Regions from separate parts of the Homo sapiens genome. Here region 2 is linked to region 1. Evidence: fine-mapped expression QTL. A gene starts in region 1. The other region holds a variant in brackets. All regions are shown on one strand. Distances are from middle to middle.

Region 1 (5,373 bases):
TTTTTGTATTTTTTGTAGAGACAGGGTCCTGAGTAACTAGGACTGCAGGCACAGCCCACCATGCCCAGCTAAATTTTTTCAATTTTTCAGAGTCTCACTATGAGATGGGGTTTATGTTGCCCAAGCTGGTCTTGAACTCCTGGCATCAAGCGATCTGCCTGTCTTGGCCTCCCAAAGTGTTAGGATACAGCTGTGAGCCACCGCGACCAGCCCCACCTGTTTTATTTATTCATTTACCTAGCCATCAAACCATTATTGAAATACCTCCTGTCAGCCCACCCCTGTGCTGGGGACACAGACAGCTGCAGTCCTGCCTTCCTGGACCTCACAACACTATAGGGAGAGAGACTCATTTCCAGACAGTGACAGCCCAAATGGGGAAGCCCAGAGGACTGACAGAGCTCCCGAGCCAACTCTTAAAGGGTCAAGAAAAGAATGGGGAAAGGCATTCCAAGAATAGGGAACAGAATGTGCAAAGACCCAAGGACAAGAGAGAGTGTGATATGTTGGGGTAGTTTTTCAAGCCTCATTTTAGGTGGTGGATAGTGTGAGGAGTTAGTGGTGAGATATGAGATTGAAAAGAGGTTGGCAGGGGCCAGATCACTTGGGGCTTAACTTTCCCCTGAGAGCACTAGGGAGCTACAGATGGGTTTTGAGCAGGGGAGGGCCCTGATCATATTCATGCTTTAGAAAGACCTCTCTAGGCCTAGTGCAGTGGGTCACACATGTAATCCCAGCACTTAGGGAGGCCAAGGTTGGCGGATCACCTGAGGTCAGGAGTTTGAGACCAGCATGCCCAACATGGTGAAACCCCGTCTCTACTAAAACTACAAAAAAGTAGCTGGGTGTGGTGGCAGGTGCCTGTAATCCCAGCCACTCAGGAGGCTAAGGCAGGAGAATCACTTGAACCCAGGAGGCAGAGGTTGCAGTGAGCCAAAATCGTCCCATTGCACTCCAGCCCACGTGACAAGAGCGAGACTCTGTCTCAAAAAAAAAAAAAAAAAAAAAAAAAGCCGGGTGCAGTGGCTCATGCCTGTACTCCCAGCACTTTGGGAGGCCGAGGTGGGTGGATCACCTGAGGTCAGGAGTTCGAGACCAGACTGGCCAACATGGTGAAACCCCGTCTCTGAGCCGAGATGGAGCCATTGCACTCCAGCCTGGGTGACAGGGTGAGACTGTCTCAAAAAAAACAAAAACAAAAACAAAATAAAACCTCTCTACATGCCAAGTGAAAGGTGGAAGTGGGGGTGAGACAGAAATCTGGGAGACCAAGAGACACGGTTGATGTGGGGGTGGGGGAAGGGCTTGGGTAGAGGAGAAGCTTGGATCAGGGAGAACAAGGAACTGAGAAAGAGGAATTCCACGTGGTCGAATGCAAAAGACTTGGAGGCTGTAAGCGGGGGCAGAGTGAAGATAAATGGTACACATCTAGGAAGACACCCAGGTCTGTGGCCTGGTTGACTGAGTGGACGGCAGAGCTAGCCCTAAGGTGGGGATGCAAGAGAGGTGGAGGATTTGGTGTAAGACGTCAATTTCATTGTAGGATTCTTTTTTCTTTCTTTTTTTTTTTTTTTTAGAGAGACTGAGTCTGACTCTGTCCCCCAGGCTTTAGTGCAGTGATGTGAATTCATAGCAGTCTTGATCTCCTGGGCTCAAACGATCCTCCCACCTCAGCCTCCCAAAGTGCTGGGATTCTCGGATTCCAGGCATGAGCCACCATGCCCGAACCATTGTAGGATTTTTTTTTTTAAGTGTGAGATGCCCTTGGGACACTCTAGGGAGAAATCGTAGAGGCCATTGACTACATGAGACTAGAAAGATCTATGATGGGGCTGGGTGGCTTCAGCAGACATGGGGAGCACTGGCTATGAGTAGGAGCTGTTGGGATCAGGGGGAGACTTTGGGTTACGAGTGGATCACTGGGACACTGGGGCACCGTGGGGATCAATACAATTTGGGAATCAGAGGTAGGTTTTGGAGGACAAGTGAGGTTGTTGAAAATAAGAAAATCATGGAAATATACATTGGAGGTTGGTGGAAAATATGAAGGATGTTTGGAGTTAGCATTAATCAATAGTGGGTCAGAGGAAGTCCTCTGAGTTGTGTGGGGACACAGGGATTTGGTGGGTCACCAAGGGTGGGGAAGAATGGTAGCAGATGCTGTGGTCATTCAGGGATTTGAATATGTCAGTGGGAAACACTGGAGGTCAGGGGAGTGTATATTGGGCGTCTAAGGAGAGACCAGGGTCACTTGGGGTTGGCTGTGACTTCATGGGAAGGCTGGACTATGGATGAGGGCTTCTTTGTCGTGGGGGAAAAAAAAAAAAAAATCCCTCCGTTGCTAGGCAAACGTTCCCAGGGCGCGGTTGCTAAGGACTTGAGCTTTCTAACTGGCCACGCCTCTTTCCATTGCGGGCTCCGCCCCCGCAGCCAACCACAAGTCGGTCACAGGCTCAAAGGCCGCGCCCACCTTCTCGCCCCGCCCACAGTCCCAGCACCGTTACCCGAGCGACCGCGGGGATTCGTCCCGCCTCCGGATCTGGGTGCCAATCGAAGAGGCGTTGCCCGGGCGACGACCCCACCTTTTCCGGCGCGGGCCAGCGGCTTCCGGGAGGGGGCCCGGCTGCGGGCGGCAGTCCGGCAGTGGCGGGGCCCGGGGGGCGCCCAAGATGGCGGCGGGCGGCGCGGAGGGCGGCTCGGGCCCCGGCGCCGCCATGGGGGACTGCGCGGAGATTAAGTCGCAATTCCGCACGCGCGAGGGTTTCTACAAGCTACTCCCGGGCGACGGCGCCGCTCGCAGGTCGGGTCCGGCTTCCGCCCAGACTCCGGTGCCGCCTCAGCCACCGCAGCCCCCGCCCGGCCCTGCCTCCGCCTCCGGTCCCGGCGCTGCAGGCCCCGCGTCGTCCCCGCCGCCCGCAGGCCCCGGACCCGGGCCCGCCCTGCCCGCCGTGCGCCTCAGCCTCGTGCGCCTCGGGGAGCCGGACAGCGCCGGGGCCGGGGAGCCGCCCGCCACGCCCGCGGGGCTGGGCTCGGGGGGAGACCGCGTCTGCTTCAACTTGGGCCGTGAGCTCTATTTCTACCCAGGCTGCTGTCGTCGTGGGAGCCAACGGGTGAGCGGCCTGCATCGTGGGGCCCTGGGTGCTGAAAGGATGGAGGTTCCAGAGAACTGATAGGAGGGTCCCCGAATTGATATGGGGCCCTGAGATAGGCATTCTAAATGTGATGGACGTTGTAGGGCGACAGCATTGGAGGGAGTACAGGATTCTGAAATGTGATGAGAGGCCCGCGGGGTGCTGGGCAGGCATCTTGGAGGTGATGGGGGAAATCCCCTTTACCCCCGTTATGCGTAGGAGTTCTGGGATGGTGACTATTGGACATGATGGGGTATCTGAGATGAGGTGGGATCCCCCGGGTTCTGGGGTGGCAGGCATTCTGCAGGTAATGGGGAATCATGAGGTGATGCAAGCCCAGAGGTGATGGAGAACCCAGTATTGCAGCCTGGAGGTGTGGGAGAGGGGTCTTGAGATTGAGCCCAGGAATGAGGAGAAGTCTAGAAGTGATGGGGGCCTTGAAGGTGATAGGGGATCCAGAAGCTGAATGGGATTCTAGAGAAAATTGGGGTCTGGAAGTCATGAGGGTCCTGGAGGAGATGAGCGTCCGGAAGCTGATGGGAGCTCTCAAGGGAATGAGAGGCCCTGGCAGGGGAATCTGCAGGTGTGATTCAGGACATCTCTAAAGCGATGTGGTGAGAACCCTGGCCGTTTATGGTGATCCCAGAAATGATGGGGATCCTTCGGAGCCCCTAGGTAATAAATGGGCCTAAAATGTGGGAGACCGTGAGGTTTGACGGGTCCCAGAACTGTGGCGGTTTAGGGACTACAAAGTGAAGAGAATGCTAGGATGTTAGGCTTTAGAGTCCTGGAAATTTGGGTGACCTCAAGGTTTGGGGGTCTTGGAATAGTGTGGTACTAGGTCCCAAGGGAGTTGCTGAGGTTATAGGATGGAGTGGTGAGGCTAAAAGGAATCGGAGCTTAGGAACTGTGTGGACCCAGAACCCTGATTATGTGGACAAGGGTGTCTCTGAATTAGAGGTGACCCAACTTTGGGGAGGCACTGTGGTCAAGGGGGATCCTTACCATCTTTTTTGCTACTCTTGTCTGTGATTTGGGTCCCCTTCCCGTCTGTGGTTGCCCCGTCCTTCGCAATCCACCTACTCACCTCCCCACTTCCCTCTGGGTTCTAACCCTGCTTCCTCTTAGTGGTTTCCCCCAACCTCAACATCCTCTTCCTTCTCCTCAGTGGCATACACCATTAACTCCTTTTCTCCCACCCCTCAAGTCCATTGACCTCAACAAGCCAATTGACAAGCGGATCTACAAGGGCACCCAGCCCACCTGCCACGATTTCAACCAGTTCACTGCTGCCACCGAGACCATCTCGCTGCTGGTGGGCTTCTCAGCGGGTCAAGTGCAGTACCTGGATCTCATCAAAAAGGACACCAGCAAGCTGTTCAATGAGGAGGTGATTGCAGCCCCCAGAGCCCCCAACTTCTCTGCCTTCTCACCTACCCACTATATGCCATTAGGATGCAGCTGCCTGCGGAACAGTGTAGGCCTGAGAGGGGCAGGACCAGGGAGAGATGGAGAATGGGGTGACAGCAGCTAATGACAGCTGCCTTTACTGTACCCAGGCCCTGTGCTGTGTTACCCTTGTGCTGAATACTTTACTCCTTGGGTTTTCTTTCTTTCTTTCTTTCTTTTATTTATTTATTTTGAGATGGAGTCTCACCCTGTCACCCAGGCTGGAGTGCAGTGGCGCGATCTCTGCTCACTGCAAGATCCACCTCCCGGGTTCATGCCATTCTCCTGCCTCAGCCTCCTGAGTAGCTGGGACTTCAGGCACCTGCTGCCACGCCCGCCTAATTTATTGTAGTTTTAGTGGAGATGGGGTTTCACCGTGTTAGTCAGGATGGTCTCGATCTCCTGACCTCGTGATCTGCCCACCTCGGCCTCCCAAAGTGGTGGGATTACAGGTGTGAGCCACCATGCCCGGTTCTTTTTTTTTTTTTTAATTGTAATTGTAATTTTTATTGTTTTTAATTTTTTTTTTCTTTTTAAGGCGGAGTCTCACTCTGTCGCCCAGGCTGGAGTGCAGTGGTACAATCTCGGGTCACTGCAACCTCCGCCTCCCAGGTTCAAGCAATTCTCCTGCCTCAGCCTCCTGAGTAGCTGGGACTACAGGTGCGCACTATCATACCTGGCTAATTTTTTTTTTTGAGATGGAGTCTCGCTCTGTCGCCCAGGCTGGAGTGCAGTGGCGCGATCTCGGCTCACTGCAACCTCTGCCTCCCGGGTTCACGCCATTCTTCTGTCT
Region 2 (5,373 bases), 70 kb after region 1:
CACACCTGGCTAATTTTTGTAATTTTTGTAGAGATGAATAATACATGCTGCCAAGGCTGGTCTCGATCTCCTGAGCTCAAGTGATCTACCCACTTCAGCCTTCCAAAGTGCTAGAATTACAGGGTTGAGCCACCGCAGCCTATTTATTTATTTAGAGACAGGGCCTGTCTCTGTTGCCCAGGCTGGAGTACAGTGGTGCAGTCACAGCTTACTGCAGCCTCAAGCTCCTGGCCTCAAGTGATCCTCCTGCTTCAGCCTCCAGAGTATCTGGGACTGCAGGTGCTTGCCACCATGCCCAGCTAATTAAAAAAAAAATTTTGTTGTTGATGGGGCACAGTGGCCTCATGCCTGTAATCCCAGCACTTTGGGAGGCCTACATGGGCAGATCTCTTGAGGTCAGGAGCTTGTGACCAGCCTGGCCAACACGGTGAAACCCCATCTCTACTAAAAATACAAATTAGCCAGGCGTGGTGGCGTGTGCTTGTAGTCCCAGCTACTCGGGAGGCTGAGGCACAAGAATCACTTGAACCCCAGGAGGCGGAGGTTGCAGTGAGCTGAGATTGCACCACTGCACTCCAGCCTGGGTAACGAGCAGGCCTCCGTCTCGAACAGAAAAAATAAGAAATTTTTTTTTTGTAGAGACAGGGTCTTGCTATATTGCCCAGGCTGCTCTCAAACTCCTGGACTCAAGTGATCCTCCCACTTCGGCCTCCCAAAGTGCTGGGTTACAGGCATGAGCCACAGAGCCCAGCCCACAAGTGTTAATAGAGCACTTACCATGTGCCAGCGCCTGTATTGGGTGCAGACTCGACCCTGCCATTGGGGAACTTGCTGTTGTCATAATGGTAGGGCAGTTCTGCAAGTATGCGAGCATTTGTGCTCATTTTCAAGTTTGGGTTTCTCTATTCCCAATTCATTTTCAGCCCCTTATGCCAGCTTGGCCTGCTTGTCACTGCTTTCATGGATTTTTTAACATTCTGTCTCCAGCCCTCATTGAATTATCTGAAAACCTATTGGTTTGGGGAAAAGTTGCCAGTCTCTCACTTGTCCCTGATCCTATGTGTCACATCTGGCCACCCTGGGGTGATCTGACACTTTTTTGTTTTCCGTTGCCTTCATTTATTTGTCTTAGAGCATTTGTCTGCTTTCCAAGTTATTTTGCCTTTTCTTGAAATCTTAAATTTGTTTTCAGCCTGTGCTTGTCTGAAGCTTACTCATACAAAATGGTATTTTTACCATCTTTATTTCAAAACCTGTGACATGTACTAGGAAACGAAGAAAAAAATTGTATTTTTTACCACGTTTAATGATGTATTTCTAACTGCTATGGTAAAGCTGTCTTACTCCTAAAAGCACAAGTTTTCTTTTTTTTTTCTTGAACTCCTGAGATCAGGAGTTCAAGACCAGCCTGGCCAACATGGTGAAACCCTGTCTCTACTAAAAATACAAAAATTAGCTGGGCGTGGTGGCGCACGCCTGTAGTCCCAGCTACTCGGGAGGCTGAAGCAGAAGAATTGCTTGAACCTGGGAGGCAGAGGTTGCAGTGAGCTGAGATCATGCCACTGCACTCTAGCCTGGGTGACAGAGTGAGACTGCGTCTAAGAAAAAAAAAGAAGAATTAGTTGGGCTTGGCGGCCAAGGAGGTTGAAGCTACATTGAGCTGTGACAGAACCACTGCACTCCAGCCTGGGTGACAGCGTGAGATCATCTCAAACAAAAAGCAAAACAAAACAAAAATAAAATGAAAAAGCCAGAGTGCCCAGCTTTGAGTCCTGGCTTCACCTCTCATCAGCTGTGTGACCTAGGGTAAGTAATTTGATCCCGTTGGACGTCAGTTTCCTCCTCTGGAAAATTAGCGTTCATTCCCTAAGTAATCCACAAGTGTTTCATTCATTTATTTACTTAGAGACAGGGCCCACCTCTGTTGCCCAGGCTGGAGTGCAGTGGCATGATCATAGCTCACTGCAGCCTCACACTCCTGGGCCCAGCGGATTCTCCTGTCTCAGCCTCCCCGAGTAGCTGGAACTACAGGCTCATGCCACCATGCTCAGCCAATTTAAAAAATTATTTTAGAGATGTGGTCTCACTTTGTTTCCCAGGCTGGTCTTGATCTCCAAGGCTCAAGCGATCCTTCTGCCCTGGCCCCCCAAAGTGCTGGGATTAAGGCATGAGTCACCACCCACAGCCTTCACTTTCAATTTTTATGTTTAATTATTTATTTTTTTGAGATGGAGTCTCCCTCTGTAGCCCAGTCTAGAGTGCAGTGGCACAATCTCAGCTCACTGCAACCTCCACCTCCCAGGTTCAAGCGATTCTCCTGCCTTTGCCTCCCGAGTAGCAGGGATTATAGGCGCCTGTCACTATGCCCAACTAATTTTTTGTATTTTTAGTAGAGACAAGGTGTCACTATGTTGGCCAGGCTGGTCTCATCCTGACCTCAAGTGCCCGCTTCAGCCTCCCAAGGTGCTGGGATTACAAGCATGAGTCATCACACCCAGCCCACTTTTTTTTTTTTTT[G/TG]AGACGGAGTCTGGCTCTGTCGCCCAGGCTGGAGTGCAGTGGCGCAATCTCGGCTCACTGCAAGCTCCGCCTCCCGGGTTCACGCCATTCTCCTGCCTCAGCCTCCTGAGTAGCTGGGACTACAGGCGCCCGCCACCACACCCAGCTAATTTTTTGTATTTTTAGTAGAAACGGGGTTTCACCGTGTTAGCCAGGATGGTCTCGATCTCCTGACCTTGTGATCCGCCTGCCTGGGCCTCCCAAAGTGCTGGGATTACAGGTGTGAGCTACGCCTCAGTGCCAAACTGGTACCAGGTGCTCTGCTGGGTTTGTTTCAGCGGATGGTCAGCCAGCCCATGGGTGGATGCTGTCATTATTGCCATTTTACAGTGGGGGAAACTGAGGCACATGGGGCTGAAAAACCTGCCTGAGGTCATACTGCCAGAGGTGGGAAAGCTGGGATCCAGCAGGCCCTGTCTGGTTCCTGTCTGCTTCCAGGATCTCAGGGCTTGGATGATTCCTGCCTTCAGGGACCATTAGTCAGAAAGGAAAACTTAAAAGGGAGGGGACCCAGTGGACTCTAAGGCCAACAAGCCATGGGTGAGGTATGGATGAGTCAGGATTCTGGACAAAGGAGCAGCAGGGTAGGGCATAGAAGGAACAGGGACCGGGCGCGGTGCATCATGCCTGTAATCCCAGCACTACGGGAAGTGGGTGGATCATCTGAGATCAGGAGTTCAAGACCAGCCTGGCCAACATGGTGAAACCCTGTCTCTACTAAAAATACGAAAATTAGCCGGGCATGGTGGCAGGTGCCTATAATCCCAGCTACTCAGGAGGCTGAGGCAGGGGAGGTGGAGGTTACAGTGAGACGAGATCGTGTTACTGCACTCCAGCTTGGGCAACAGCACGACTCCATCTCAAAAAAAGAAAAAAAAAGGGTGGGGTGGTGCCGGGCGTGGTGGCTCACGCCTATAATCCCAGCACTTTGGGTGGATCACGAGGTCAGGAGACCGAGACCATCCTGGCTAACATGGTGAAACTCTACTAAAAATATAAATAATTAGCCGGGTGTGGTGGCGGGCGCCTGTAGTCCCAGCTACTTGGGAGGCTGAGGCAGGAGAATTGCTTGAACCCACGAGGCAGAGGTTCGAGTGAGCCGAGATCGTGCCACTGCACTCCAGCCTGGGTGACAGAACAAGACCCTGTCAAAAAAAAAAAAAAAAAAAGGAACAGGACCAGGAACGAAACCCTGGTGTCCTGCCACCAATTCCCATGTAACTGGGCAAGTGCCTTGTGCTGGGTGTGACCCTGGCCCTGTGATGGGGAGCGGGGTCATCTGACTAGGGGTGGGGATGGGGAAGTGGGGTGGGGTCAGACATCTACGCTTTACCATTTATCATTATTTTTCCATTCTTTCTTTCTGTTTTGGTGTTTTTGAGCCAGGGTCTCGCTTTGGCACCCAGGCTGGAGTGCAGTGGCAAAATCTCAGCTCACTGCACCCTCCACTTCCGGGCTCAAGCGATCCTCCCACTTCAGCCTCCCGAGTAGCTGTGACTGCAGGCACATGCTGGCTAATTTTTGTATTTTTAGTAGAGACGGGGTTTTGCCATGTTGCCCAGGCTGGTCTCAAATTCATTGGCTTAAGCGATCTGTCTGCCTCGGCTTCCCAAAGTGCTGGGATTACAGGCGCGAGCCACCACACGTGGCCTATTTTTCCTTATTTGTTTGGTTTATTCTGTTGTTTTTTTCCCCGCTTCACTTCTTTTTTTTTTTTTTTTTGGCTGAGAGTCTTGCTCTGTCACCCAGGCTGGAGTGCAGTGGTGCAATCTCGGCTCATTGCAGCCACGCCTCCTGGGTTCAAGCAATTCTCCGATTCTCCTGTCTCAAGCTCCTGAGTAGCTGGGATTACAGGAGCCTGCCACCACATTACAGGTGTGAGCCACTGCGCCCAGCCAGGATGATGTTTATATTGTAGTTTAGACCTTGAGCTCTGGAGTCAGCTGATCTTTGATTCTAAGTTCTGACTTGGTGTGGTTGCTCCTGCCTGTAGTCCCAGCACTTGGGGAGGCCAAGGTGGAGGATTGCTTGAGTTCAAGAGTTCAAGACTGGCCTAGGCAACATAGTGAGACCTCATCAGTACAAAAAAATGTAAAAATTAGCTGGGCGTGCTGGTATACACCTGTGGTTTCAGCTCCTCAAAAGGCTGGGATAGGCTGGGCACAGTGGCTCACACCTGTAATCCTAGCACTTTGGGAGGCTGAGGCGGGTGGATCACTTGAGGTAAGGAGTTCAAGACCAGCCTGATCAACATGGTGAAACCCTGTCTCTACTAAAAATACAAATATTAGGCCAGGTGCAGTGGCTCACGCCTGTAATCTCAACACTTTGGGAGGCCAAGGTGGGGTGGATCACCTGAGGTCAGGAGTTCGAGACCAGTCTGGCCAACATGGTGAAACTCCATCTCTACTAAAAATGAAAAAATTATCTGGACATGGTGGCGCACACCTGTAGTCCCAGCTACTTGGGAGGCTTAGGCAAGCAAATCGCTTGAACCGGGAGGCAGAGGTTGCAGTGATTGCAGTGAGCCGAGATCGCACCGTTACACTCCAGCCTGGGCAACAGAGCAAGACTCCGTCTTAAAAAAAAAAACAAAAAAGAAGGCAGCTGAGATGGGAGGATCACTTGAGCCCAGGAGATTGAGGCTGCGTTGAGGCGAGATTGCACTCCAGCCTGGGTGACAGTGAGACCATCTCAGAAAACAACAAAAAACAAAACACACACTCACAAAAACAGAGTTCTGCTACAAAGCTATAAATGAGGGCAATTACTTAGCCATTCTCTGCCTCAGTTTCCTTATCTTCAACACGAAATTAA

Direction of the effects. Alleles are on the strand shown, and positions count from the first base shown. SD is a standard deviation of normalised expression in the study named.
With allele G in place of TG in region 2, the expression in Th1/17 cells of the gene that starts at base 2,581 in region 1 is lower (moderate effect, 0.74 SD a copy in Schmiedel 2018).

Evidence for each region. PIP is the estimated chance that this variant, and not a neighbour inherited with it, causes the effect. A credible set is the group of variants that fine-mapping cannot tell apart.
Region 2: its variant is the best candidate, but not a certain one, in a credible set for the expression of DMWD in Th1/17 cells (Schmiedel 2018, PIP 0.55).

What each region holds. Positions count from the first base shown.
Region 1 is chr19:45,790,053-45,795,425 of GRCh38, reverse strand. DMWD (DM1 locus, WD repeat containing) reads left to right here and starts at 2,581. Exons shown (of 5, transcript NM_004943.2): 1 at 2,581-3,110; 2 at 4,339-4,521. The coding sequence starts at 2,670. RefSeq lists a silencer at 2,453-2,932 and enhancers at 4,081-4,130, 4,151-4,210.
Region 2 is chr19:45,719,906-45,725,278 of GRCh38, reverse strand. All of the region lies in intron 1 of FBXO46 (F-box protein 46), which reads left to right. Among named protein-coding and RNA genes, the nearest start is that of FBXO46, 8.3 kb to the left of the region's middle. RefSeq lists silencers at 2,914-3,208, 2,954-3,248 and an enhancer at 4,129-4,629. The variant G/TG (reference allele first, on the strand shown) is at 2,518.